Regions from separate parts of the Homo sapiens genome. Here regions 1, 2 and 4 are each reported to be linked to region 3. Evidence: microRNA targets listed by miRTarBase, many of them from high-throughput screens and not tested one by one. Region 3 holds a microRNA gene; each other region holds the end of a gene's coding sequence.
What was found. Region 3 holds the annotated microRNA hsa-miR-3691-5p (AGUGGAUGAUGGAGACUCGGUAC, at 5,014-5,036, shown strand). A microRNA usually pairs through its seed, bases 2 to 8, with sites in the 3' UTR of a target mRNA and lowers its output. Matches are read on the target gene's strand: a 7mer-m8 pairs with bases 2 to 8, a 7mer-A1 pairs with bases 2 to 7 and ends in A, and an 8mer does both.

Region 1: miRTarBase lists CA8 as a target of hsa-miR-3691-5p. The part of its 3' UTR that is shown has no 7-base or 8-base seed match.
Region 2: miRTarBase lists ZNF772 as a target of hsa-miR-3691-5p. Seed matches in the 3' UTR shown: 8mer at 1,897-1,904.
Region 4: the mRNA of PACSIN2 is a reported target of hsa-miR-3691-5p. Seed matches in the 3' UTR shown: 7mer-m8 at 6,625-6,631.

The regions. Positions count from the first base shown.
Region 1 is chr8:60,202,722-60,209,844 of GRCh38, reverse strand. CA8 (carbonic anhydrase 8) reads left to right here. Exons shown (of 9, transcript NM_004056.6): 8 at 926-1,095. The coding sequence ends at 1,060. Among named protein-coding and RNA genes, the nearest start is that of CA8, 75 kb to the left of the region's middle.
Region 2 is chr19:57,466,918-57,474,040 of GRCh38, reverse strand. ZNF772 (zinc finger protein 772) reads left to right here. Exons shown (of 4, transcript NM_001144068.2): 4 at 1-4,455. The coding sequence ends at 767. Among named protein-coding and RNA genes, the nearest start is that of ZNF772, 7.1 kb to the left of the region's middle.
Region 3 is chr6:5,146,199-5,153,321 of GRCh38, reverse strand. MIR3691 (microRNA 3691) reads left to right here and starts at 5,000; the gene lies at 5,000-5,089. All of the region lies in intron 2 of LYRM4 (LYR motif containing 4), which reads left to right. The region is part of intron 3 of LYRM4-AS1 (LYRM4 antisense RNA 1); the gene reads right to left.
Region 4 is chr22:42,864,659-42,871,781 of GRCh38, forward strand. It overlaps PACSIN2 (protein kinase C and casein kinase substrate in neurons 2), which reads right to left. Exons shown (of 11, transcript NM_001184970.3): 11 at 5,115-6,811. The coding sequence ends at 6,699. It overlaps LOC101927393 (a long non-coding RNA gene), which reads left to right and starts at 6,756. Exons shown (of 3, transcript XR_001755575.2): 1 at 6,756-6,845.

The sequences.
Region 1 (7,123 bases), not on the chromosome of region 3:
TTTTCACTTACAGTGGGGAAGCCATGGGACCTGGAGAGCCCACCTAATAAAGGGAAATGAACTTGAAAATCAATATTGTAAAGACAGGAATTTGGGCTCAGACTTTTGAAAAATCATTTTTTTGGACCTGTGCTCTCCAGAGGGCTAGAAAAGTGGCAAAAGTCTTTTGATGAAAGGAAACCTTGAATCTATCTGATAAATCTAAGATCTAATCAGTGTTTACATACAGTAACATAAGAATCCATTAATTAAAATGTACTTGGAAAGCATTTAAGAGCACATTCATTTGTTCACTTTTTCTTATTATGCTATAGATAGGCATAAAACCTTTTTGGGAGAGGTTTGTATCATTGTTTTTTGGAGATGGAGTCTGGCTCTGTCACTCAGGCTGGAGTGCAACGGTGTGATCTCGGCTCACTGCAACCTCCGCCTCATGGGTTCAAGTGATTTCTCCTGCCTCAGCCTCCTGAGTAGCTGGGATTACAGGTGTGCACCACCAAGCCTGGCTGATTTTTGTATTTTTAGTAGAGACAGGGTTTCACCGTGTTGATCAGGCTGCTGTTGAACTCTTGACCTTGTGACCTGCCCACCTTGGCCACCCAAAGTGATGGGATTACAGGCGTGAGCCACTGTGCCCGGCCTGTATCATTTTTACATTAACAAATGGAGCAGATTTCTTTATCTATTTGAGTTGTTCAGAGATCTTGATATGTCTACTTCTGTTGTCATTTCTTGAAAGGGTCCTCTCTAACGTCTTAGGTCTGGAAGAATTAAGTCTGTTTTTTTTCTTTTTGAAGCTTAATTTTAATTTTCTCTTCAATAATTCTTGTAATTTATACATATTTTATGCATGTCATTTATGAAACTCCAATCTTGTTAATGTCCGATAATTGATTAATCTATTTTCTTCTGCTTTTATTTTCAGATAGAAGAATTTCGAAGGCTGAGGACACATGTTAAGGGGGCAGAACTTGTGGAAGGCTGTGATGGGATTTTGGGAGACAACTTTCGGCCCACTCAGCCTCTTAGTGACAGAGTCATTAGAGCTGCATTTCAGTAGCCAAAGAGGACAGGAACAAGTCTGTCTTCATGAGGGTATGTCCAGATTAAGTAAGGAAAATGAGGTGCACAGCTACTTAAACCTAGCGTACCAAAGGTACACTTATTGTGATCCTGGTAATTTAGTAATAAAAGCGTATGTACTTCATCTTGATAAAATTTATGACACATTCTTGAGCTCTGTTAATTACAGGTCAAGTAGGTATTTTAATTTTATGCAGTATTGAAGAAAAACTATGATTATATTTTCCTATCAGAGTAGCCTTTAATTCCAAGTTTTGGTGGCTTTCATAAGAACAGACACCCTCAGGCCCAGAAAAAGTGACATGCATGCATACCTCTTTAGTAACTTACCATGTTGTCCCCGTGAAGCAGCACCAGTCATGTCCCAGTGACCAAGGAGCACATAGGAGGGGACTTGGGGAGCGTGTGAGCCTCAGTGTGGACCCTTCTCGTCTCCTGCAGAATTGATCCTCTTGTTTCTCAGGGGAGGGAGCATATCTGGCATGCATTGAAATACTTCTTCTATGGAAGTGCCTTTTATATGATAAATTGAGAAGCACTTATTAATTATCTGAATATGATACACTATTGATTGAAACATAATCTATGTATTTTAATATATAGAATTCAATGTATGTATTCCTTACTCTTAAGGAACTAACAAAATAAAATATCACAAACACGGAAGAGATAAAATATAAAACAAACTATATATTGGATTATTTATTTACCTTGTAAATTTCCTAAGTGCATAGGTCATTGTACATCACTGGCAAACCACAGCTTCCCAAGGGGAAGGCATCTGTTGGAATAGAACCTAGGGAAGCAGCGAAATCTCATCTCTATAAACAATTTAAAAATTAGCTGGGTGTGGTGGCATACGCTTGTAGTCCCAACTATTCAGGAGGCTGAGGTGGGAGGATCACTTGAGCCTGGGAGGTGGAGGCCGCAGTCAGCTGAGATCACACCACTGTTCTCCAGCCTGGGTGACAGATTGAGATCGTGTCTCAAACAAAATGAAACAAAACAAAAAAACGAAGAAGTCTGCCAGGTAGCCAGGGTGATAGATGCGGAGGCTTGGACACTAGAATAGGAACAGTGGAGGTGGAGAGAAGTTGATGTATATGAAATAGAAATCGCAGGTTATAGCTAGTGATGAATTGGATGAGGGGTGGAGGGAGATGGAAGTGTCAAAGATAAATTCCGGGGTCTTACACTTTGGAAACCCTGGATGGAGTGCCACTGAGTGGCAGTGGGAAAGCTGCGGGGAGGCCCTGTTTGGTTGAAGATAAAGAGTTGAGTTGCAGCACAGTGAGTGAGAGATGCCTGTCAACCACAAACTGCAATAGCGGACTCTGGTCATGAAGGTCATTAGCATTTCAAGAGTAGAGAACAGAAAACAAGTCTGGGTTGAAATAGGGACGTATTGGGTGTAGACATTGTATATGTTCATATAATGTTCTGATGGATCTAATGGGGTTACTTAATTAAGTGTGCATAAAATCTTGTGGGAGGCTTTACAGACAAGTTAGCCAAGACACAGATAAGTTAGGTTACGGGCCAAAGTAATACAGTGATTGAGCAGTGGAGCTGAAGGAGATCCAGGCAGCTTGACTGGCAGAGCCCTTTTTCTTCACCACGACATGGGCAGAGGTTAGAGAGTTTTGCCACACTGGCGGTCGAGTGACACATCAAGGAGGGATGTGGTTGCAGCAGGCTAAAGGCCATAGGAAGGGAGGAGCTGGAGACTCCAGGTCGCAGCCACCTTGGTGGGCTGGGGTGGGGCAGGAGGCCGCAGCAACAGAGACGGGGTGGGATTGAAGAAGTCTTTTTTTTTTTCTTTTTTAAACAAAAGAAATAGAACTTGTCTATATGCTGGGGTGTGGGAAAGGAGCAAGTAGATGGAGAGAGGCTGAAGATACTGCTTCTGGGAGGAGCTGGAGCAGTGAAGTCTGAAAAGTTGAAAGGGATGAAATCCTAAGCACACAGGGAGACTGGCTTTTGCTGAGAGGATGGGCACTCTCTGTGCTGCAATGGGAAGGAAGAAAGAAGGAGGTGGTGGTTTAGAGCTGCTGTGTACCCATGACTTGCTCTTACCATTTAATGATGAAGGGGCAGGAGCTAGGAGTGGGAGAGCAGCAGTGAAGATGGATAGGAGCAGAGGAAGAGGGAAGGATGTGTTCACAGGAGAGGCCAAGAGGCAGCGGGGGTGGGATGAGGGTTGCAAAGCGTGAATTTATGCATTTCTCCAGTCTAGGTTTAGTTAGTATACTCCCTGTGAATGTCAATACCTGTAAATGATACTTTTAATGAAGGGAGATTATTCCCTTGAATGTTTGGTTTGTATCTTGTCCTAGACCAGAGTTGCCATTCTCTAAATATCTAAATGACTATTATTATTTTCTCTCTCTCTTTTACACACACACGCGCACACACACACACAGAGAAATGTTGTTTATGAGATTTTGTATATTTCACATACTTCATATTCTTTATATGATAGATGAATAATGTGTAGTTTTTCAAAGTTTTGAGTTAATTACAATTTAGGTACTATTTCTAAAAGGAAGATATATTTGTGTTCTTACTTTGGTGGCTGAGATTACTTAAAGGGGATAATTTGCTCCCAAATTCCTAAGAATGGTACAGGAATTCTAAGGTGACTAATTCTTATTTCATTTTTTTATGAATACTTTTATCTTGAAATGTGTAATACAAATCTGGTCAGAGTTCTATATAAAAATTATATTGGGAATCAGACTTATGTGTGTGTACTTTTTATTTGATATTTAATAATGCCCTAAGGCAGGTAATTCAAATTTTTATTAAAGTGAAATGATTTGACAGTCAGACTTTGAATTTAATGCATGAATGTTTCATTTAAGCTCTTGGAACTAAAAAGGAAAAGACATTTCTCTGGTAGTTGTTCTCTAAAAAATGTTTAAAATAATTCAGATATATTTTAGCTATGTTTTACTGAAATAACTTTAGTTTTAGACTTAAAATGACAGATTTTTAAAAAAATGACATGTCTGGGCACCTGGAAGACTTTGATAACCAAGCTTTATTATTCCCATGAGTAATCTGTGACTTTTTATATTACCATTTAAGAAGTATGAACTATGATTTTGTATTATACTTGTTTAAAGAATTAGTATGTAAGTCATCCAGGTGCTGGAAATTCTTTGGTTCAGCGGTGCTAATTCAGATTTATGGGTGCCTATTGATATTAAATGATCCTTTACCCATTGAATTTTCTATATGATGCAGGAGAACTAAATGTATTTTAATAACAATGAACAAATGATATAACAAGTTTAAGGTCCAGTTTACTTGTTACTTTTGGTATCATGACATTGGTACTCATCTTCCAGCAAAATGATTATTTGATTATTTGCCTTTTTACTTCATAAAGTGTTAGCCCATTTTTAAAAGGCTGTTCTGACGCTCAAAGACTGTCTCGCTTGTGACCTAAATATTGTTAAGCTGTATACATGTTTACAGTAACTATAATGAATTATAATTATTTTCTGTAAAAAGCAATGTCACACGGCTCTTTAGTTTCTCTTTTTTTCTGCCTTAAATGTGGAAAAATAAGAATGCCCTAAATACGTTAAAAAAGAAACAAAGCCAGAAAAATGGGGTTATTCAGCAAGCATCTCCAAATAGTCCCATTGTCAAACTTGCCCTTATTTTTCTTTTGGGATCTTTGAAGTTATCCTTGACTGTTGAACTCTTCCCTACTTGTACTTTTGCGGTTAATAATATTGTCTTCTTAGCTTTAATAAAGCTATAACAAGTATCAATTTCATATCAGTCTTCTTTGATAACCTAAAAGAGTTACAGGTTAGAAGAGGGTAAGGCATTATAGAGAAGGGGGTGCCTGTGTGAGGAAAGGAAAGTGAGAATGTTCACTCTGAATGACCAAGTAGGTGAAAGCTATTATCCTTCCAGATTAAATGGAAAGCTCAAAGCCATATTTTCAGTCAGTAGAACTTGGACTCTCCTCTGATAATTTAACATGGTGCACAGCATTAGGGTTAGAACTGAAGGCTCTACAGATGTAGCTGTTTTCTATTTATTATATCTCATAGAATTTCCTCCAACTGGAATGGATTTCCTACCAGATCTCAAAATGATTTCAGTAAAATGCCAAAACACCAAGGATGCTCAGAATACCTATTATGTTTTGATTATGTGATATAAAAATTATTAACCCACCAATGAAAAATACAAGAGCTGTATGAGCTCTCTTCAAGATTACTAAACAAAGAAAATAATTCGTGCTTTAAAATATATCTCTTCCTTTTTATGTTTTAGAAATGTTAATAATTTATCATGGATAAAAATTTCAGAATGATTTTTTCCTCCCACTATGAATTAAAACAAAATTGTGTTTGGGAGGAAGAATGTTTTGCAGTCATGGGCCAACTTGTATGTCGAATGTTAATATGTTCTGATACCCTAGATACAGTAGATTTCATGATTTTAAACCTAAAGAATATATTTTTCCATAAGGAAATCACTGTGACCAGTTTGTCATTTAAACATGTTCTTTCATGCCTTTTACCTCATGTATACTCAAAAGTGGACATTAAAAAATGGCTTTCAAGTATCAGCAAAAGGCTTTGAATTAGCTAAGGAAAGAATTTATTTCTAGAGGCTCCAAGAAAGACCTTTCCTGTAAGTAGGTGGTTTAAATCTTGAGTGGGTTTTTGAGGAAGACTAAGGCATTAAATACTTGAGGTTCCTAGGTGGTTTAGGTGGGAACCTGCCTGGACAGGGATTGGGGAAATGTTCCAACAGACCTCACAAAGGCCCTTCGAGCACTGGATATTATAGTTCCCTGGTTTATGATGAATATGCTTTCCTGTGTCTCTATTAAATTTATCATGGAAAAGAGAAACCAGAGAGAACAGGAAGCAGGTAAATGAGGAGGAAAATGAAGTGAATTTTTTTTATGAATTAGGTTTTGTTAGTAAGTCTCCAACTGAAAACATAAAGCTTAAAAATTCATCTAAGGAAATTACTAAAAATGCTAAAAAAACAAGTGCAGAAATCATTGGAAATCACCTATACTTTAATCAGGAGTATAAGGAGATACTTTTTTAAAAAAGCATTGAATAAATTTGTTTTAATATTTTCTGTACCTCTTAAAAGAGGGTATTATAGAAGCAGTAGTATCAAATAAAGCTTTTATGTCAGCATTTCATTATGATTAAAAATCTTAAAAATAGAGGGAAAATAGAATCAAAATAGGATTTATACTGAGATTACTATTTTTTCAATTGGAAAAACTGAGAGACTTGCCTAAAAGTCTACCTCATTCAGATTAAAATAAGGGGTTAAGGAATTGAAACTTTATTAAAAACTGGATTGTTACTAGGCAGATACCAAGAGTTCATATTAGACCGTGTAAGAGTAGTGACAATCAGGGAAGTTATCCTTTTTCTTTCAATAAAATTTTACCTGACCTTCAGTTTTCTATTTGTAAGCATCTCATTTTTCTTTTTTTTATCTCCAATCTTAGCACCTTGACAATTTGTTTTAGCTGTCTGCCTTTTTTGGGTCACTCCTAGAAATCTGCCAACCTAAAGTCTAGAATGTTCTCCTCTCTGTTTTCTGTTTAAATGCTGTTGATATTTGAAGGACCAGGTTTTACCTCCATGAAGTCTTTTTCCCAAGTAAACTGACCTTACTAATCCTTCTTTGCTTTCTGAGTTTAGTACCATGTTAGTTTAGTTTTAAATTATTATTTTTTTTTGTTTTCTACTGCACTTAGCAGTTTTAGTTTTACTTACTCCACGAGACTATAAATGTCTACGTAGTAGAGTCAAACAAGTTTGTAACATACTTCATTAAGCAGGTTTTCTTCATGCAAGACTTCTGAGAATCTTTACTATGCCAGGGACCTATGTGAACTCCAAGAGGGTATGGTATAGTATACAGCATTTCACAAATTTATTTAACCAGCTAATAATACGAGATTGCAGAATATGTTTTGGTAAGTGCTTTGGAATGATCCAAAGCATTCGTTGTGATCTTGGAGGACCTAAAATAG
Region 2 (7,123 bases), not on the chromosome of region 3:
CAAGCATTTTCGAGCACCATGCCCCTCACAATGAGTGGAAGCCACACAGCAACACCAAGTGTGAGGAGGCCTCTCACTGTGGAAAAAGGCATTACAAATGCAGTGAATGTGGGAAAACCTTCAGCCGCAAAGACTCACTTGTTCAACACCAGAGAGTCCACACTGGAGAAAGGCCTTATGAGTGCGGTGAATGTGGGAAAACCTTTAGCCGCAAACCCATACTTGCTCAGCACCAGAGAATCCACACTGGAGAAATGCCTTATGAGTGTGGCATATGTGGGAAAGTTTTTAATCATAGCTCTAACCTTATTGTACATCAAAGAGTACACACTGGAGCAAGGCCTTACAAGTGCAGTGAATGTGGGAAAGCCTATAGTCACAAATCTACACTTGTTCAGCATGAGAGTATCCATACTGGAGAAAGGCCATATGAGTGCAGCGAATGTGGAAAATACTTTGGTCACAAATACAGACTCATTAAACATTGGAGTGTTCATACTGGAGCAAGGCCTTATGAGTGCATCGCATGTGGGAAGTTCTTTAGCCAAAGCTCTGACCTTATTGCACATCAAAGAGTTCATAATGGTGAAAAGCCTTATGTGTGCAGTGAATGTGGAAAAGCCTTTAGCCACAAACATGTACTTGTTCAGCATCATAGAATTCACACTGGAGAAAGGCCATATAAGTGCAGTGAATGTGGGAAGGCCTTCAGGCAGAGGGCTTCCCTCATCCGCCACTGGAAAATTCACACTGGAGAAAGGCCTTAGGATGGGAGATAATTCCGTTTCCTTGTTCAACATAATAACTGACATCAGAGAGAAGCTCCAAGCATAGCCTTTATGTGTAGCCGACAGCCAGAAGTAGAACTTTATACACTCAAACACTCACCCTGGGGAGGTTCTTCCGAGTGCCAGCTATATGGGAAGCCTTCTGGAGCTATGCTGAATTTTCTAGACTCTTGCTGGAATTTCGTCAAGGCAGTGCCTGTTAGAAGCCATCTGTCTTTGTGCTGGAAGAGTCCTGCCTTGTGCCAAAGTAACCCCAATGTGTTTCAAAAGACAGACCTCTGTACTATTCCCTTCCCTGGAGGGAATCATCAGTAGCCTGAGGCCATCAAGGATTCTCACTTTTTTTCTGCCCCACTACTGGTTTAAGCATGAGCATGACCCAGTTTTAGCCAGAAAAATGGGAGCTTTGTTCTGCTGACCACTGGCAGAGGTTTCCCTTCATGGATATAGTTGATCTCACATGGCACTTGGGACGAATTTTTCTAGCCTTCAAGACACCTGACCTGAAATTGGCTGCCTCATATTCTGGTTTTGCAACAAATGCCTTAATTTTTAGACTATCTGAAATCTTGAGGATTCTGTTCGCTTTGTGGGTTGGGTTGAGAACAGAATTGAGCTAAGCCAGTATGAAGGGAAGAACAGCTTTTGTGAGAGCTCCAACTATCTGTATCTCTGAAGTGATAGTAGGATGGCAAAGACTAGCTCTTATGCTAGTGTCAAGCTAACTTACTTGACTGCTTCAGCTCTCCTAGGAAAGAATGCCAGTCTTTGTAGGCCTAATCTTTTGGTCTATATGTTAAGATTTTTTGTGTAATTGAGGTCACCCTAAGCAGTGGGCATTTGTTGTGATAATCTCTAATGTGTCTGGGAGCAACATGAATTACGTCCCTTGTTCCCAGAAGATACTTCATATTCCCAAGGCTTCTTGAGGAGAATTTGAACTCAGTGGACATGTCAAGATCTCTGAAGTCTATTTTTCAGTAGGCAGTTGATATTGGCTGTCCTCCAGAAGGCCCAGGTAGGAATCATAGTTGGTGCAGAAACCCAGATTAATAAAGGAATGAGAAAACTGCAGCAAACTATAGGGAATATGACCCTTCTAAAGGTACATCCACATGTGTTTCCATTACTCTGGCTCCATTATGAGGGTTTACAGAAATATTTCCATACCTGTGTCTCTTATGGCTAAGGTTACTGTCCAGAAGTCAGTCTAAACATTTTTGCAATAAACTGCACATATTTATAGTGTACCATTTGATAAGTTTTGATACATGTTGGCACTTCTCAAACCAAAAGTTTCCTGATTCCTTTTATATTTTCTCCCTTTCCTTCACCCATCCCCAGGCAACTATTGATCCGTTGTCACTGTAGATTTGTTTGTATTTCCTAGAATTCTACAGAGATAGAGTAATTTAATATGTATTCTAATGTTTTTGGCTTCTTAAACTCTGAAATTAAGGCTCATGGTGGTGTTCTGTGTTTCATAGTTCATTTCTTTTCATTTGTACTTTGCTAAGAGTGTTCCATTGTAGAGAAATAGTTTCAAAGCAAGTGATCCAGGAGAGAACTCACACAAGAACAAAGCCACAGTATCTGTCATTACCTTAAACTGAAAGTGATGAGCCGTCATTTCTGCTATATTTCATAAGTAACCCTAGCTAATCCTGGTTAAAAGTGGAAGAGAACTACACAAAGGTGAAAATAGGGATTTGTGGGGCGTTTTCTTGGACTCTGGTGACCATAATCCTATATGGTTTTTTTCTTTTTCTGTTTTAGTTGTTTAATATGAATTACATTGACTGATTTTTTTAAATGTTAAGCCAACCTTGCATTTCTGTAATAATTCCCATTTGGTCATGATGTATTAGTCATTTAGTATATTGTTGAATTTGATTTGCTATTTTGTTTTGTTTTGTTTTGTTTTTTTGTAACAAGTTTTGCACCAATGTTCACGAGTGATATTTGTCCCTAACTTTCTTTCTTGCTTGCTTGCTTTTTTTTCTTTGTAATTTTATATCTTGCCCAGGTTTGGCTTTGGTATCAGCATAATGCCAGCTTTATAGAGTAAGTTGGGAAGTATTCCTGCTCTTCAGCTCTCTGGAAGAGTTTGTGAATAATTGGTATTATTTCTTCCTTAAATGTTTGGTAGAATTCACCAAGGAAGCTGTCTGGGCCTGGAGTTTGTTTTGTAGGAAAGTTTCTAACTATAAGTTTGATTTCTGTGGTAGATAGAGGGCTGTACAAGTTATATGTACATCTGTCTGTGTGTGTGTTGTCTGTCTGTCACTCTGGCCCTGAAGTGTGTTTTGTAGGACAGCATCTAACTACAAGTTTGATTTCCATGGTAGATGGAGGGCTATACTAGTTATATATACATCTGTCTGTCCGTCCATCTGTTTGTCACTCCATCCATCCATCTATCTCTAGAGTGAGCTTTGATGGTTTGTGTCTTTCAAGGAGTTTTTCTGTTTTATTTAAGTACTCAAATTTTTCAAAATATTATTTTCATACTTGTAGAATTTGTAGTGGTGCAACCTCTTCTATTCCTGATACTGGTAATGTCTATATTTTTCTTTTAACCTTGATTGGTTTGGGTAGAGATTTATCAATTTTACAATTTTATTGATCTTAAAGTACTTGGTATTATTGAATTTTCTGTTTTCTGATATTTTGGGATTTTTCTTTTCCATTTTGAGTTTTACTAATGCCTTCCGCTTTTATTGGATTTCATTTCTTTTGCTACTTTTTAACATGGAAGCTGAGGTCCTTCATTTCAAACCTTTGGGTTTTTTTCCCCTAATATGGGGAAGAGATGTTAATGTTAAAAATCTATCTGAGAACTGCTTTAATTACCTCCCATCAAGCTTGATGTGGTTTCATTTTTTTTTTTGAGACAGTGTCTTGCTCTGTCATCCAGGTTGGAGTGCAGTGGCGCGATCTCGGCTCACTGCAAGCTCTGCCTCCTGGGTTCACACCATTCTCCTGCCTCAGCCTCCCGAGTAGCTTGGACTACAGGCGCCTGCCACCATGCCTGGCTAATTTTTTGTATTTTTAGTAGAGACGAGGTTTCACCGTGTTAGCCAGGATGGTCTCGATCTCCTGATCTTGTGATCCGCCTGCCTCAGCCTCCCAAAGTGCTGGGATTACAGGCGTGAGCCCAGCCGATGTGGTTTCATTTTAGTTGAGTTTAGGATGTTTTCCAGTTAAAAAAATTCTTCTTGACACATGGCTCTTTTTAAATGTATGTTATTTAATTCCTAAATATTTGGGGATTTTGCTTATCTTTCTGGTAGTTTCTGCAATAATTCCATTGTGGTCAGAGTACATTAAGACTTGAATTATTTACATTTATTGAGATTTGCTTTGTGGCCCAGAATATGGGCTATCTTGGTATGAGTTACATGTTCACTTGAAATGTATACTGTACTCTCGTTTGATGAAGGGGTTCTACAAGTGTTGATTAGGTAAAAATGGTTGATGTTATTTAAGTTTTTTCTATCTTTATTGACATTCTGTGGTTTTGGTTCCAGCAATTATTTTAAGAGGATTGTTGACATCTCTGAATATTAAATTGGATTTACTTCTCTGCAGTTCTGTCAGATTTTGCTTCACATATTTTAGTATGTTTTTATTAGGTGAATAATAAATATTTCCTATTTTATGTCCACTTGATGTGTTGACCACTTTATCATTATGATCCTGTTAATCTCTGGTAATATTCTTTCTCTAAAATCTCCCTTGTCTGATACTGTTAACATGGTTTAATTTTGAATGGACACTGAATTTTAGGTACTGATTTTTTTTTAATTTTCTATAGATATTCTTGATTTCTTTTTTCTGTTACATGGTTAAGTTACTTGGAAACAATATGATCTTTTGGGGAGTCTTGATTCTAAACATTTCTCGATGAGATTATTGCAGCATACATTTTAAGACAAATTCCCCTCCCATTACTGAGACACAACCTTCCTATATTCTCTACCTAATGCTTCATGAGTTATGAGTTTTTTTTACTCAAGCTGGTTGAAATGAGAACTATCATGTTTTCTGTATAAGCCTTGGGAATTGCTTCCCGTATAATCCTTTCAGGTGGTTCTTTACCCATCCTCTGGTCTTTTTCTATATGCAAACACAGATTATACTCAGCTGAATACTTGGGGATGGCCCTCTATATCTCTGAAGTTTTTTCTCTCCTGTACTCTGCTCTGTAGACTCCAGCTACCTTGGCAAACCGAGACTCTTAGCTATGTCTCCTTAACACAGGATGACTTTTGGGCTCTGAGCTCTCCATCTTTGTACTAGGGCCTCAGAATTAATTTTCACAGTAACCTTATTTAGTTTTTTCTTTTTTGAGAAAATCTATGAACCCATGTTTTTTCTTTCTGATATAGTGGAAGGTCTATCAATTTTAATAATTTATTCAAGGTGTCTCCTTTTTTTAATCAGAAAGAACGTAAATCACATATTACAGATAGGAGCAATGAAACATAGTATAGTACTAGATAACTTTGAAACATATAATGGATAATGTGTGATTGTTTTAAACAACCCTTTCTCAGTAAGTTGAAACTTGGAAAACAAAAATCCATTGAAAGATACCAACTGACCAGGCTCACTCGAGATCTGAAAAATCCTCTACTAAAGATATTTAATACATATATCTATATATCTCTTAGAGAGAAAGAATAAGTCATATTCTAGTGAGATTTGTTAGGATTTTTTTTTTTTTTGAGACGGAGTCTCCCTCTATTGCCAGGCTGGAGTGCAGTGGCGCGATCTCAGCTCACTGTAACGTCCGCCTCCTGGGTTCAAGCAATTCTCCTGCCTCATCATCCTGAGTAGCCGGGATTACAGGTGCACGCCACCATGCCCAGCTAATTTTTGTATTTTTTGTAGACACAGGGTTTCATCATGTTGGCCAGGATGGCCTTAATCTCTTGACCTCATGATTTGCCTGCCTCGGCCTCCCAAAGTGCTGGGATTACAGGCGTGAGCCACCGCACCCAGCCTTGAGATTTGTTAGGATCTTAAAGTTGGTTTAACAGTAGAAAATCTATTAATTATTATATTAAATACAGTCTGTGGTGTAATAAAAAATATATCTGGATCTTTGTCCCAGGCTTAGTACTACAAAAATCTTGTAATTCTTTGAGTGAGAGAAGTGTATTTTTTATACTAACGAAGTGATTCATTATAGGCTCCTAGAAAGGTTCAGAATGGGGGCTCTTCATCAGAAAGACCAACCATGTAATAAGAGGGTTGAAACTTTGAGCCAGATTGACCTTTGGGGAGAGGAAAGGAACTAGAGATTGAAGTCAGCCATGTGGTTGTGATTTAATCACAGCTACAAAATGAGATACCCCCTCCTCGTTCCTCCCTACCAACTTAGAACTCTTGACGCAGAGGCTTGGTGGAGTTTCCTGGTTGGTGAACATGTTGATGTACCAGGAGGGTGATGTGCCTTGACTTTGTGGGGAGAAGGTATGGAAACTTCACATCTAACCAATAACTAGAACACTTAAAAAAAATTCTCAAATGACCATCCATAGGTGAATGAGTAATTGTATTAATTTTCTAGGGCTGCCATAACACAATACCAAAGACTGGGTGGCTCAAACAACAGAAATTAATTTTCTAACAATTCTAAAGTCCAAGATTAAGATGCTGGCAGTGTTGGATTTCTCTGAGGCCACTCTCCTTGGCTTGCACATGGCTGCCCTCTTTCTGTCTCTTCACAAGGCCATCACTGTACGCATGTGTACCCCTGGTGTCTCTGTGTGTCTTAATTTCTTATAAGGACACTGGTAAGATTAGGGTCCAACCTAATGGGCTGATTTCAACTTAATTCTTTAAAGTCCTACCTCCAAATACATCACATTTTGAGGTACTAGGGGGTTAGGATTTCAACATATAAATTTTGGGTATGCACAATAATGTCCATGGCAGCAATCGATTGTAGCATCTCTATGAAATGGAACACTATCCAGCAATATAAAAGGATGCCTATACATAATATGGACAAATCTCAAAAGCCTTAAGCTCAGTGAAAGAAGCCAGATGCAGATGATTACATGTAGTATCATTCAATTTATGTAAAAATCTAGAAAAAGAAAAATCAGTGGAGCAAGAAGGCCAAAGAGAAACATTCATCAATTTTCTCCCCACAGGAACACGAGCTGAACAACTACTCATGCAAGAAAGCACATTCATAAGAACCAGAAAACTAGATGAGTGATCGGAGTACCTGATTTTAACATAATATCAAGAAGAAAGGCATTGAAGTGGGTAGGAAAGGTAGTCTTGCATTGCTTAAACCACCCCTTTCCCATCCCTTG
Region 3 (7,123 bases):
GTCAGGAGTTTGACAGCAACCTGGCCACCATGGCAAAACACCATCTCTCCTAAAATATAAAAATTAGCCAGGCGTGTTGGTGCACACCTGTAATCCCAGCTACTCAGGAGGCTGAGGCAGGAGAATTGCTGGAACCCAGGAGGCGAGGCAGAGCTGAGATCACACGACTGCACTCCAGCCTGAACGACAGAACGAGACCCTCTCTCACACAAAAAAAATAATAATAAGATTACCAATGGTTCAACAGAAACAAAACCAACAGCCTAGTGTATTGTGACAGTCCTGGGACACAGAGGCAGAATTAGGTACGTACTGCCTTCATTTAAGGAACCTGCAAGCCCAGCGGCCTTAAGTATGCTACTAAGGATATAGTACTAGTTGTCACATAAATAAAATTCTAAATCCTGTCATTAAATAAGCCACCCTTATGCCTTTCTCATCTGGCAGCAAGTTTGTCAGCACAGGGCAGTGGGTAAAGAGTTGCCGTCTGCTGCGTGTTTCCATTTGCCCCGTGACCTAGCCTGGAATTCCTACCAGCCAACAACAGAGGAGGCCCAAGAGGAAGGCTTTCCCCAGAAACACGCAGTCCCATCCCCTGGAAACAGTTCCATGAGCACATTAGCTTAGCTGATTATGAGAGTAGCTAGGCATCAGCTCAGGCACTGAGTAAAGCAGACCTTTGTAATGGGGCTGAGGGAGGAAGCGTGTACAACAGAGGGGAACAGCCAGGCCGGAGACAGACACGCAGCTGGGGCTGCCTCACTTCTCCGTTTGCCTCCACCAGCCATGCCTTCTGACTGGACATTTTCACCAAAGAAGATACGATGGGGTATAGTTTTTAAAAAAATATTAGAAGGATGGCAGATTATTAAAAGCCAGCTCTCGCCCCCTATTTAATCTAGTACGTCATGCCGGCACTGGAGGTAGTACATGTGTGTCATTCATTGTTTGTGGGTGTTTCCCCGAGTGACATAGTTGTCGCTTAGTTGCCGCTTTCCTAGGAAATGCTTTTGGCATCACATACTTGCCTGCAGCTGATCAGGGAAGCAGCTTGGCAGGGCAGGAGAAACACAGAGCTGAGTCTGCCGCTCTCACTGGCGTGCTAACCATGGGCAAGCTGCTTAGCTTCTCAGCGTCATGTTGCTCCTCATCTATAGAATGAAGTTGGGTCAGTGATTTTTCTCTAAGGTCCTTTCCAGTTCCCATACTTAGTGGTTCCAGTGATACATATTGACAAGAATATGGTATCATTCTTTTATTCATTCATCAAATATGCGTGAATCACCCATGTCTGGGAGCTTGCTAGATGCTGTGAGCAATTGCAGCAGTGAATCCCACAAAGATCCTGCTTTCCTGGAGCCTGTCATCCAGCCAGGGAGACAAAATGGGGGCACACAGGATTCTCCCAGAAAGCAAAATGGGAAAAATACTGGTAGAAAAGAACAAGGAAAAACTTATCTTCTATTTGTTAAGCCTCCCTCTGTGCCCTAAAGACTCTATTTGATAATTTATGGACTTTTAATTTAATTATGACAGTAATCCGGTGAGGTGGATTTTATTATCCCACTTTATAGATAAGGAATCAAACATTCAGAGAATAAATAATCTGCCCCTAGTCATGCAGCTAGTAAATTGAGCCAGGATTTCAGAACAAGCCTTTCTGCTTTGAAAGCCCATCCCTTCTCCATTAGAACATGCTGCCTCCTGATAAAATGCTTGGCGAATTGATACAGGAGATAGCATATGCCACCGAGGGCAGGATAAGCATTTTCTGGTAGAGGAGCCGTTTGCTCAAGGACCGAGAAGTGGGTGGAATTGGCACGTGTGACTGGGGAGAGGATTTCCTGGAGGCAACAACTGTGAAGGAGTCGGGGCAAACCCAGTGAAAGGGAGATGGGCCAGGCAGAGACTTCAGAAATTATTTAAAAGGCATTTTGGAGGCCGGGTGCGGTGGCTCATGCCTGTAATCCCAGCACTGTGGGAGGCTGAGGCAGGCAGATCACGAGGTCAACAGATAGAGACCATCCTGGCCAACATGGTGAAAACCCGTCTCTACTAAAAATACAAAAAATTAGCTGGGCATGGTGGCACGCATCTGTAGTCCCAGCTACTCAGGAGGCTGAGGCAGGAGGATCCCTTGAACCCAGGAGGCGGAGGTTGCAGTGAGCCAAGATCGTGCCACTGCAATCCAGCCTAGTGACAGAGCAAGACTCCGTTGCAAAAAAAAAAAAAAAAAATTCAAAACAAACAAAAGGCATTTTGGAGCCCCTGAAGATTTGGAGTAAGAGGTTAAATAAGTAAAGGTCACTTCTAGCCATGCCATGAGAGTACTAGTGTAGACACTGATTAAATAAGCTGATAGGGGCTTGAATTGAAGATTAAAAGTCAGGAAGGGAGAAAAGAAGACATGGAAGAGAATGCTATACCATTCTCATAAAGGCTGTGTCATCAGAAATAGCAAACTCAAACTCAGGAACAGGAGCCAACCTTAGAAACACATTGAGGACTCTGATTTTAGTGACTCTAAGCTGCAAGAGATTGGTTCAGCTGTAGTTCTACAACTCAAGATAGTAGTCAGAGCCTGAGCATGCAGCGGTTACACGCTTGCAGGGGAGAGCTGGAGGCTCGATTGAGAATTAGTAAATGCATGACACTCTGCTGCTCACAGAACATGTGCACATTTGCTATCTCAGATGCTTTTCAAGGTGGCCAAAGGAGAGACCACAAAGAAAGAATAATTATGTTAATAGCTAACAATTAGTGAGGGCCTACTGTGTACTAGGCACTGTGCTCAGGATTTTGCATACCTCAGACCTCACCTCCCTATGAGGTGTCATTATTATATCCCATTTGCATAGAAAGTACCTGAAACCAGGGTATCCATGGTCACAGAACTAATACATGGCCAAGCTGGGACTTGAACCCAGGTCTGATGGCCTAAGGTCCCCAGCCTTGGTTAAACAGAGAAGGAAAGGAGGTGCAACAATAGGGGAAAATCAGAATCCAAAAGAAGAAAAAATTGCAAGGAGGGCAGATATGGTTGGTTTCTCTGTTTATTCGTTTGCCATTAGAAACTTTGAGAATAAAGGTCCAGAATGTAGTTGATTAAAATAATGTACACCTGGTTCACCACTGTTACTGATCACCTGCCTTCTACAAAGCTTACGTATTGAGCTTTTATGGGACAGATGGGCTGCGGTGCATTACTGCCTCTTAATACCCTGCTTTACTGTAGCCTGAAACAAGGGTGGCTGTCTGAATGTCAGCGAGGACTTGGGGATGCCAGAGGCATGCTGCTGTGTTCATCTGCTTCTGTGCATAAAGATTTAACATTTGACGTTTGCCCTTTGTTACATTTATCCTAGAGTGTCTTAACATTATTTTAAAGTGATGGATGTTTTGCTCGTAGGAAATCATTCAGAGGTGTAACAAACGTAGTACCATGATGAACTAGTAAGACGACATGTTCTGGGAATGGCTTGCACCTGCCTGTTGTGCATATGTGTGTCCATGTGTGGACAGGCATGCTTTTAAGTGGAATTGTGTATCTGATGTTTACGTATCTAAATAATGTATATATAATTTGGTCCAGATTTTCTATTACCTCATAGTTTTATTATTCCAATGAGAACTTTATAAGAAGCCCTCTGATATCCTCATCTCCACAGTAGTCAGGGACTTCAGGGTTCCTCTTCCCACCCCCACCCCCAGAAGACATACCAAGATTTTCAGATTAATGCTTCCCCTAATTCTAGAGTATTTTGGAGAATATCTCTCTGGAGAAGCAATAAGGATCAGTGGTTTGAGCTACGACTTTGAAAGCAGACATGTAAAGAGGTTTGAATCCCAGCTTTACGACATGCTATCTGACCTTGGTTAACCACTGAAAATCTCCCTAGCCTCAGTTTCAGTGTCTGAGATAATGAGCCTGACACCATCCTTGATATCTGTGTCCTGGGGACCTGGAGGAATTAATGAGCTGATGCCATAAAATACCGATCCTGGGTTGAAGGGCCTCTCCTGTGAGGTCTTTCTGTTGCAGTGCGTCTTTGTTAGCAGGCTTTTCCCACGTGTCGGGGCTTCTTTCAGGCCCTCATTTTAGTGTTATCACCACATTAGTGCCTATTTCACTTATTTTTGAAAACCTGAAAATATCATACATACTGATGGAAATTTCATTGAATATTAATGAACACTCAGAACTGTACCTGCAACAGAAAGCGAAATTGGCTAAATATTACTCATCCAATCATTTATCTGAAAGATGGTGTCATTTTCCAATCCTAAAAATATAATAATTAATGTGAAATTTCAGGTTTAAAGTACAGTTTTAAAATATCAAGCAAGCATCATGTCAAAAATGAAATTTTATTAAAGGAGCTATTCTAGACGATTAAGAAATGAAAACTTAGAGTTCTAGGGGAAAAATTCAGAACCACGTTTAATTTTATACTTGGAAGCGCGCTACAAATGACAAGGTAATTTTTATATGTATATTTATAGATTTAATTAGCAGTTATTCCATTATATCTTTCATATAACTATAAATGGAAAATGATTTCAGACAAGAGGCTCTCATCTTCAAGAATTATTGTTGGTAAAGTTATGGGAGAGCTGATTTCTCAGTCACTATAAGCAGAGAGAGAGAGAGAGAGAGAGGTGTGTGTGTGTAAAGGTCATTACCTGTCACCTAATATGAATTCTTTCATTAAAAAATACTTTCTATAACTTTTCTCATTTTCTCATCCATGTTTTGCACTTGAGACTATTTAGAAGGCACCATGACTTGTTCAAGGCGTATACCCAGCCCAGCTCAGGATTACGATACAGAGTTCTAACTCTGCCCCCTCAGCCCAGCTCAGGATTACGATTCAGAATTCTAACTCTCCCCACACAGCACGGGAAGTCCTGCATACCCTGCTGATCTGTGGGTGTCACATAGCCTTGAGGCTCATAAAGGTCTTTGCTTCTCCTTCCTGCTTTTACGTTTCAGTGAATATTGAGGCACTGGGTAGTGGATGATGGAGACTCGGTACCCACTGCTGAGGGTGGGGACCAAGTCTGCGTCATCCTCTCCTCAGTGCCTCAAACGGTCTGGGAGCCAATGTTCAACAAACGAGCATGCGGGTGAGTAAAACACAACCAGCTGTAAGACGTGCTGTTCAAAAGGGCGGGCTGGGAGGGTGGCCGGGACACCAGTCACGGATGTCTTCTGTGAGCAAGAGCTCTTTCATCTGGGACCTGGTGATGAGTAAGGTGACGTGAAGGGAGAGTGGGGGAGGGCAGGTGGCCTGGGGAGTGCTAACGAGCTTGGTGTGTTCTGGAACTGAAAGAAGACAGAGATTGTTTTCCCGCTCCATGTGGAGAGAACCAGTTGCCCACTAATTTACAAAAGGAAAGTCGGACAGTAATCTCTCATCAGCGTGGCTATCAATGAGACCTGGAGCTTCCAGGAAAATTTGGCTTAATAAGTACCATACTGTTACTTCCTCGGGAATATTAAAAAGGAAGGAGCGATGAGACAGAAGGGCCTAATTCACCCTGCCGTGGACCACGTCTGACTTGGCCTGCTAACAAAGCATGTTTAGGCAGTAGGGAGAGAACCGAGGGGAGATGGACGTCTCTACATGGAAATATTTTCTGAATGTGAATTTTAGTATCCCTGTTTCCTGTCTTCCTTCAAAGATGAAAAGGAATCCATGTATAAAACAGGTAGTCACATGAGCATATGTAAAGTTTGGTTAAGCAAATTCAAGGACTTTTTCTACTTACCTAGGGCCAGTATATTCTGTGGACATTGATAACCCATAGTTTCAACTGTAACCTCACATTGATCCCCAGTTTTCAGAGAAAGAGGACACCATCTACTTCTGGTCACTGGCATTTTAGGTGAAATCCTGCAGTGATTGTTTACTGGTAGCCTAATTAGGTACGTTATCCATTATTTAACCCAAAATCCAGGTTAAAATATGACATCAGTGACTTTAGCTAGACCATAACTACACACGTTTACTTCCTGGAGTCATTAAACTGCTTAAAGAAAACAAAATCCCAGCACACCCTTGTTTTGTTAAGGTAACAAAATGAGCTCGTATCAAACATAAATACAGGTTTAAATTACTGTAAAATTTTTTTGTGGACTCAAACACAAACATCACAGCAAAGCTTACCTGTGACCCAATTAGGATCATCATGAAAACATAAATCCCAGTTCTACTCAAGTAATACCAATGGCCTGGTACCAATGGCTTCCAGCAGGCCACTGGGGTTTGACTGCCAACTAGGAAAAGCCCCTGCCTCTGGGGGATAGATGATGGGGAAATCATTCCATCCATCTCAGTGCTGAGCTCTCACATGCTCTTCTGCTTTTCTGTAAATTGACCTAAAATGGCCATCTTTGATGGTCTCTCACTTTCCCTCTAAATCCCTGATGTGAGAATGTATTGGAATTATTTCATGTAACAGTGTGTCTGCCCACAGACCGGCCTCCTGGCTCCAGCTTAGCAGTGTCCAACAGTAAAAATAGAAAAGCCCCTGAGTCTTGTCTTCTTTTGAGAGGAAAGAACCCTTTTGCAGAAGGCCCAGGAACCCCCTCCTCTAGCCACTTTGGCCAGAGTTGTGGTATGCAATTATTCCTAAGCTGTTCACTGGACAGGTAGCTGGGCCCCACCACAACTGCCTAACGTCAAGCAAGATTGATGCCTGGGGGCTGTGCTGGGAAGAGGCCCGCTTCAGGGGGAAATTGGGGCTGTGTTGAGAAGGAAGGAGGGTAGCTGTGGAGTGGGCCACTGAGTGGGGCCTGCGTTTCACAAGCATTCCAGGTCCTGCCTGGGGGTATAAATCCTGGCTCTCCCTTTTCCAGCTCTATGGACTGCACAAAAGTATAATACTATCTAACTTCTCGGCATTTCTGTTTTTTCACCAATAAAAAAAATGAAGGTAACAATACCCCCTCAGAAGATAACATGCGAGCAAGATGGAAGCACAGACCTGGCACAGGCCCATTCTTTACTCTGAGTCAAGTCTAGTCTCCTTAGGGACAGGGCATCAATAAGGGACCCCTCAGCACCTTGCACGATTCATTTAGTTCTCAGGAATTCATTTGCTAGGACTGAATACGGGA
Region 4 (7,123 bases), not on the chromosome of region 3:
ATTTTTGTATTTTTAGTAGAGACGGGGTTTCACCATGTTGGCTAGGCTGGTCTCCAACTCCTGACCTCATCCTCCCACCTCGGCCTCCCAAAGTGCTGGGATTACAGGTATGACCCACCATGCCCAGCCAGATTTTTTTCAATAAAAGTTACACTTGAGTGTGCCAGCCTTTCCTGTTGCTCCTTCCACCTCCTCTACTTCTTTCACTTCTTTTTTTGAGACAGGGTCTTGCTCTGTTTCCCAGGCGGGAGTGCAGTGGTGCAATCATGGCTCACGGCAGCCTTGACCTCTCAGGCTATAGTGATCCTCCCACCTCAGCCTCCTGAGTAGCTGGAACTACAGGTGTGTGCTACCATGCCTGGCTAATTTTTTTTTTATTTTTGGTAGAGACAGGGTGTCCCTGTGTTACCCAAGCTGGATTAGAACTCCTGGGCTCAAGTGATCCTCCCACCTCGGCCTCCCAAAGTGCTGGCATTACACGTATGAGCCACTATGTCTGGTGTTTATTTTTAATTGAAGTATATTTAGGGACATGAGAAAATGCTCATGATCAAATGGCAGGAGAACGAAACTATATTTACAGTACGATCCCAATTTTGTAAGACACATACACACATTGATGATGATGATGACGACAAGAAAACAGCACATGTGGCTGGGCGTGGTGGCTCACACCTGTAATCCCAGCTACTCGGGAGGCTGAGGCAGGAGAATTGTTGAACCTGAGAGGTGGGGGGCACAGGGAGCCGAGATTGTGCCATTGCACTCCAGCCTTGGGCAACGAGAGTGAAATTCCACCTCAAGAAAAGAAAAGAAAAAAAGAAAATGGCACATGTGCATATATGTTAGGAAAAATACCAGAAAAAAATACACCCCAATGTTAGCAATGTAACCTCTGGAAGTCAGGATCACAGATAACTAATGTTTTTCTGAATACCTTTACTAAATTTCCAAATTTTCATCTGAGCCTTTGTTCCTTTTACAATCAGGAAAAAATAATTAAGATTCCTATTGGAAAATACCATAAAGTGGCAGGGCCACCTGGCTGTCTTTGCCCAGAAGCGGCCAGTGACTGTATGTAGTTCACATGCCCTGAGGCGGCTGCCTTGGTGATCCGAATGCTGTTGAGCTCAGGGTCTTTTAGGTCCTCGTACCCTAACCCTAACCCTAACCCTAACCCTAAGGCGCTCTGGGTTTCTGCAACCTTCGGGAGGTCTAGCACCTAGTATTCCTCTGGCGTCTGAGTTTTGGTCCACTGGCCGTTGGTGCTGGTATCCTTTCCCCTAAGAGTGACATCACTTATTTAGTTCATTTCTTTCTTCCTTCCTTCCTTTCCTAGCCCTTTCCACAAAGGATTTGTAGATGCCTAGAACAATATAATCTGGGTTTCATAGGATAGTCCCAGATTTGTTGCGTTTTCTTTTTTCTTTTTGGTTTAGTGCCACATACCCAGGCTAGAGGGAGGATGAGCACTGTGGTTCCTCCGACCCTGTGCCTGGTGGTGGTCATGCCTGGCCAGAAATGAGCCTCGTACCTCAACTGCAGGCGAGGCCAGATTTAGCTCAGTTTGGGCACATCCTCCCAGGTGTGGTGGAGCCACCTCCATCCTGACCCTGGTTCTTTTCACTGGCTGGCACCTGGAGCTGACTCCGTCCTGGCCTGAGGGCCCCTCTGCTTGCTGCCACCACAGGGGCCACAGAGATGCAGCCCATTTATTCGGAAAACCGAGGCCCAGAGAGTGGCCTTTGTCTTCCACAGGTGTCTGTGGAAGGGCTGGGGAGGGGCGCAGACCTTCCCTGCCTCAGAGGAGGCTTCAGGAAGGGTGGACAAGGGAGGGGAGCAGAGCGGACAGCCACCACTCTGGGGAGACCTTGGACTGTGAAAAGGGGTGGGGGAAGGAAAGCTTACAGGGCACCCACAGGCTGGGGTGCCCACCTGGCAGGGTCTTTGGCTTCTGAGCACCCCTTAAGTTATCCTCACTTCATCACCCCTGTTTTTTTGTTGTCATTGTTTTGAGACAGAGTTTTGCTCTTATTTCCCAGACTGGAGTGCAGTGGTGCAATCTTGACTTACTGTAACCCCCGCCTCCCGGGTTCACACGATTCTCCTGCCTCAGCCTCCCAAGTAGCTGTGATTACAGGTGCCCACCACCATGCCCGGCTAATTTTTTGTATTTTTAGTAGAAACAGGGTTTTACCATGTTGGCCAGGCTGGTCTCGAACTCCTGATCTCAGGTGATCCACCCGCCTCAGCCTCCCAAACTGCTGGGATTACAGGCATGAGCCACTGTGCCCGCCAGTCATCCCTACTTTTCAGCAAATGAAGCTCAGGCATTTTCCGTTTGTCTGTGGTCCAGCCTCCTGCCCAGGTGGGGACTCAGGGACACTTCCTACAGGAAGTTGGGGAACGGCTCAAGGACTGAGCAGTGCTCTGATCTCTGAGGCCTTGGAGCCTGGGTTGGGAGGCCTGAGACTTCTGAAACCCAGCACACACATTCTCAGAAGACAACTCTGGCCCTTTGTCTCTGGCTGTCCCATCATGGTGTCAGAATAACACAGGTCCTTCTCTGAGCCTACCAGAGTTTCCCAAGGGCAAGATTGGCTTCTCTTCATGTTTGTCCTGGCACCGCTGAGTCTCACACACAGTATGTGCTCAATAGATGCATGGTGAATGAATGACTGCACAATGGATACATAAGGAGAGCCAGCTGATCCCTCACCAGGTTGGGCCACTCAGGGGTCAGGCCTTGCTCAGCTTCCCAAACCACATGGTCTGTGCCCACGGCGAAGTCACTGCTTCCTCTCACTTGTCCTGTTTCCCCATGAACTATGAGGGGGTTGGTCAGGTGGTCCACACAAGTCCTTCCCAACCTCCCCCATCCCTATCCCGATGGCTTGTGAGCGGGTTCCCTCCAGGCCTATCCAGTGCCTGAGGCCTTGACACAGCCCAGGCTGCCCAGTCGGGCCTTCACTACATGCTTCTGAGTGGACCAGGATCTGGCATCAGAGCCCAGAGCAGAGGTCAGCCCTGTTCTCCATCTGCAGGGACCTCCGAAGGCCCAGTTTTAGCTCAGGCTGCAGCAAAGCCAGATCCCTACTCCGGTCACTTGGCAGCACTTGCTCACCCTCCCGACATTTCTGGGTTGTGGGAAGGATGGAGAGAGATGATGAAATACCCCTGTCCTGAGCTCCAGGTAGCTTTGGCCCAGGAGAGGGCTCTGGGGCTAACACTCCCCCTAGTGTCAACTCAGGGGCCTTGGGGACCCGAAGAGGTGTGGACAGTTGGTGGCAGCACTGATCCAGGGTGGTGGCTGTGGGAGGAGCGAAGGGCAGCCATGGACAGCAGAGAACCCTGGGCCCCTGCCTATGGTGTCACTCATAATCGTGACAATGACCAGCTCCTGAGTGCCTGTGGCGTTTTTCTTTTTTTTTTTTTTTTTGAGATGGAGTCTTGCTCTGTCACCCAGGCTGGAGTGCAGTGGCGCGATCTCGGCTCACTGCAAGCTCCACCTCCCGGGTTCATGCCATTCTCCTGCCTCAGCCTCCTGAGTAGCTGGGACTACAGGTGCCAGGCACCACGCCCAGCTAATTTTTTGTATTTTTAGTAGAGACGGGGTTTCATCGTGTTAGCCAGGATTGTCTCGATCTCCTGACCTCGTGATCCACCCGCCTCGGCCTCCCAAAGTGCTGGGATTACAGGTGTGAGCGACCGTGCCCGGCCTTTTTCTTTTTTTGAGACTGTCTCGAGAGCTCTGTCGTCCAGGCTGGAGTGCAGTGGTGCAATCATGGCTCACTGCAGCCTCAAATTCCTGGGCTCAAGCAATCCTCCTGCCTCAGTCTCCCAAGTAGTTGGGACTAGATGCATGCACCACCACACTCGACCAATTTTTAAACTTTTTGTAGAGACAAGGTCTCACTATGTTGCCCAGGCCACCTTTTCTTCTTGCTCTAACTCTCCAACTGGAAAAGTATCACTTCTACTTGGGGAAACTGAGGCCTAGAGACAAGCTGAAGTTTCCAAGCTGGCCCCTGAGGGCAGGGCAGGAGAGGGAAGATGGGCAGTTAGAGGCCCTGCCAGATCTCTCACGGGGGGGGCCGTGTGATCCAGCCTCAGAGTGGAGGTTGCTTCATCCAGCTCAGCGGGGACCGTGGTCTTGCCATGGTGTTTGGGCAGTGACTGAGGCCACTGGCACCAGGAGCCTGCTTCTGACCCCCCACCTTCCCTCCCAACCCCGTTCTGCCTGTTTCTCTGCAGCCTGGGGCTGTGGGCCGAGCCGGGTGTCCGCCCTGCGCTGTAGGGCTCCAACTCCTCAGAAGCTGGGAGCAGGGGACCCGCCACCCCTCAGACAAGGAGGCTGCGTGACAAGGATCTGTCCCATACCCTTGCTGAGCTGGGACAAAGCCACACTGCAGGGGCAGCTGCCTGCCTTGCTCCTCCCAGGTGCTCTGTGAGGCCCCATGCCCAGCTGGCGTGCTTTTCTGGGCAGCCTTCCCAGGGCTCGGTGAGCGTGGCCACAGCCGCCCTCACGTCTTGCTTCTCTCCTGTCTTCAAGCCAGTCCAAGCCTCCTCCCTCCTCAGTTTCTCCAGCGAGGGAGGGGGTGGTTCCTCAGGGATTTCGCTCAGTGCTTTGGGCTGGCTGAGACTCCTCAAGAAACCCTGGCTGGCTCTTGGAGCCTCTGTTTCCTCCTCGGTAGAATGGAAATGGGGAGACTTGCCCATACCCTGTGGAGATGTTTGGAGACGCAGATAATGTAAGTAAAAAGTGGAGAGCACACAGTAGGTGCTCAGGAAAATGTGCTCATAGGAGAGTTATGGGTGATGTCAGTCTTGTCCTGCTGTTTGGGCTGGGGCAATAGAGAGGCGCCAGCCGATGCCCGCACCATGTGGAAGCCCAGGTCAAACAGCAGCAGGTCTCGGGGAGAAGGGAACCCCAAGGGGCTCAGGTGCCTCAAATCCCCAACCTCCAGTTTGGCAGGGGCAGTGGGCCGTGGCCTTTTGGGCAGGGGTCCTGTGCCCTGGATCTTGCCCAGCTCCAAAGCTAGTAAGCCCCAGGGAGGCCACCCCCGCCAAGTGAAGTGGGCATGAAGACAGATGATGGCGAAGGGACTTCCATATGCACGAGATCAACTGTTTATTGATTTTTTTCCTCAAATACTACACATGTAAAGGAACTGTTAAACTGAAAAAGACTTGACAATTTTTGGTAAATCCGTAGCACAGAAATGAGGATTTCTGCTGGTAAGTTCTCAGGACAGACACAGACACAGGTCCACTTTCCAAGCAAGACATCTGCTCACTGGAAACGGAGTGAATGCATAGCTGGTGACGGCGGCGGGCACTGCTGAGTCACGTGAAACACAGGTTCCCCCACGTTCCCCCCACCCCCGCCGGCCCGCGTGGCCCCCGCGTAACTCTGGCTGCAGCACCTGCTCCCGGGCGACTCCGGGCAGCCCGAGACACTCGTGCTGCGGGTAAGACCCAGCTTCTGTTTGTGCACAAGTAACACGACGACTGAAATCTGCAACTACTGCAAAGACGCGGGCACTTTTACAGTGTTCTGCTACGGAGCCAGGACAAAGGCCGGTCAGAAGCCGGACCAGCAGTCAGCTGGTGACGACGAGCCTCCCTCCAGCAGGCACCACGTCAGAGAGGCCCCAGGCCCACTGAGCCCGGGAGGAGACCCAGCCGGCCAGCCAGACGTGTGCCTGAATGCCACAGACTTCAAGCAGTTTACAAACGAAACTCACTGTTAAAAGCTGTTAAATCTCATTAAAACAGTAGACGAGTGCTTTAGATTCTCTGAATATCAAATAATATATACAGATAGACACTGAGACATGACAGTCTAATCTAAAGCATCTTTACAGATGCATTTGCTTGAAAAGTTAGTCTTCTTTTTAACTCTGAATCAGTGATAAAATTGTTAATTTGCAAAAGAGTACAGTTTTAAGCAAGAATAGAGTGAAAATAATTTTTAAATATGGCGATTTGGGGGAGTTCTACCTAAGGTTCTATGTAAAGCTTCCATTCAGATGCCCAAAAGCACAAAGAGCATTCCCAATAGAAACCCGACCATAACCCGGTCCCACCTTCCTGGCATAATTCCTTTCCTCAAACATCTGCCACCTGAGGCTAAGCCTACACACGGCGTGGCTGAGTAACAGGGTAAGGGAATAGGGAGATCGTTTCCTCAAGACTGGTGCGCATCAATCTGTGCCATAATTTAAGTAGAAATGAACAGGTGTATAAAAAAGTATAACTGTACACAGCCTTTAAATTAAAAACCTCAAAATCTTCACTCAAAATGGGATGTAAGCTTGTTCATTTAAGTTGCAGGTGATGGACTCGTCAGAGAGAGTAATCAGTGGAACAAGATCAGTGTAACCCACCATTGACTCGGAAAGGAGAGACAAAGTCAAGAACATAGAGATCTATGATAGGCCAACAGGCACAGTGGGCGGGGAGGGGCGGCTATTTCTGTTGTTCTGCGTCTTCCTGCGCTCAGATCCCTCCAGCTGCACTCGGAAAGGTGCCGAGTCCCAGGCGAAATGACCAGCTCATCTGCCTTCCAGGAACACCATGAAGCCAAGAGCAATGGAACCATCATCTCTTGCAGGAAAAGGAGTGGATGCCCACGTGGCTGGCTGAGGCTCCTGGGCCCGCCGCCTCCGTCCCCCCGCTGGCCTGTCCCCGACTCATCACTGGATCGCCTCCACATAATTTGCCGGGTATAGGCCAACTTGCCCGTTGTCCAAGCGTCCCTTGCACCAGCCCTGCTCATCCTCGTCCTCCATCTTGGTCAGCTCATCCCCTGCAAGACAAAGAGGGAGCCGTCTCCATGAGAGGTATGACACCGACGGTGGGCTACAGAGCCGCATTCACGAGCTTTGAGCCCACAGAGGGTGGAGGGCCAGGCATTCTGTGGCGGGCAGGCCGAGGGCCTGGTCATTTCTCTACTAAATGCATGCATTTTAAGTTGCCTCTTTGGTCATGGGCCTCTGACAGACCTAGAGATGACAGTCTCACACAGTAATTTGGAACAAGCTGCTCTCAGCTGCCACAGTGGCTCCCACTGAGACTGCGGCATCCAGCTCCATAGGGCTGTGCCTTCCTCACCACCCTG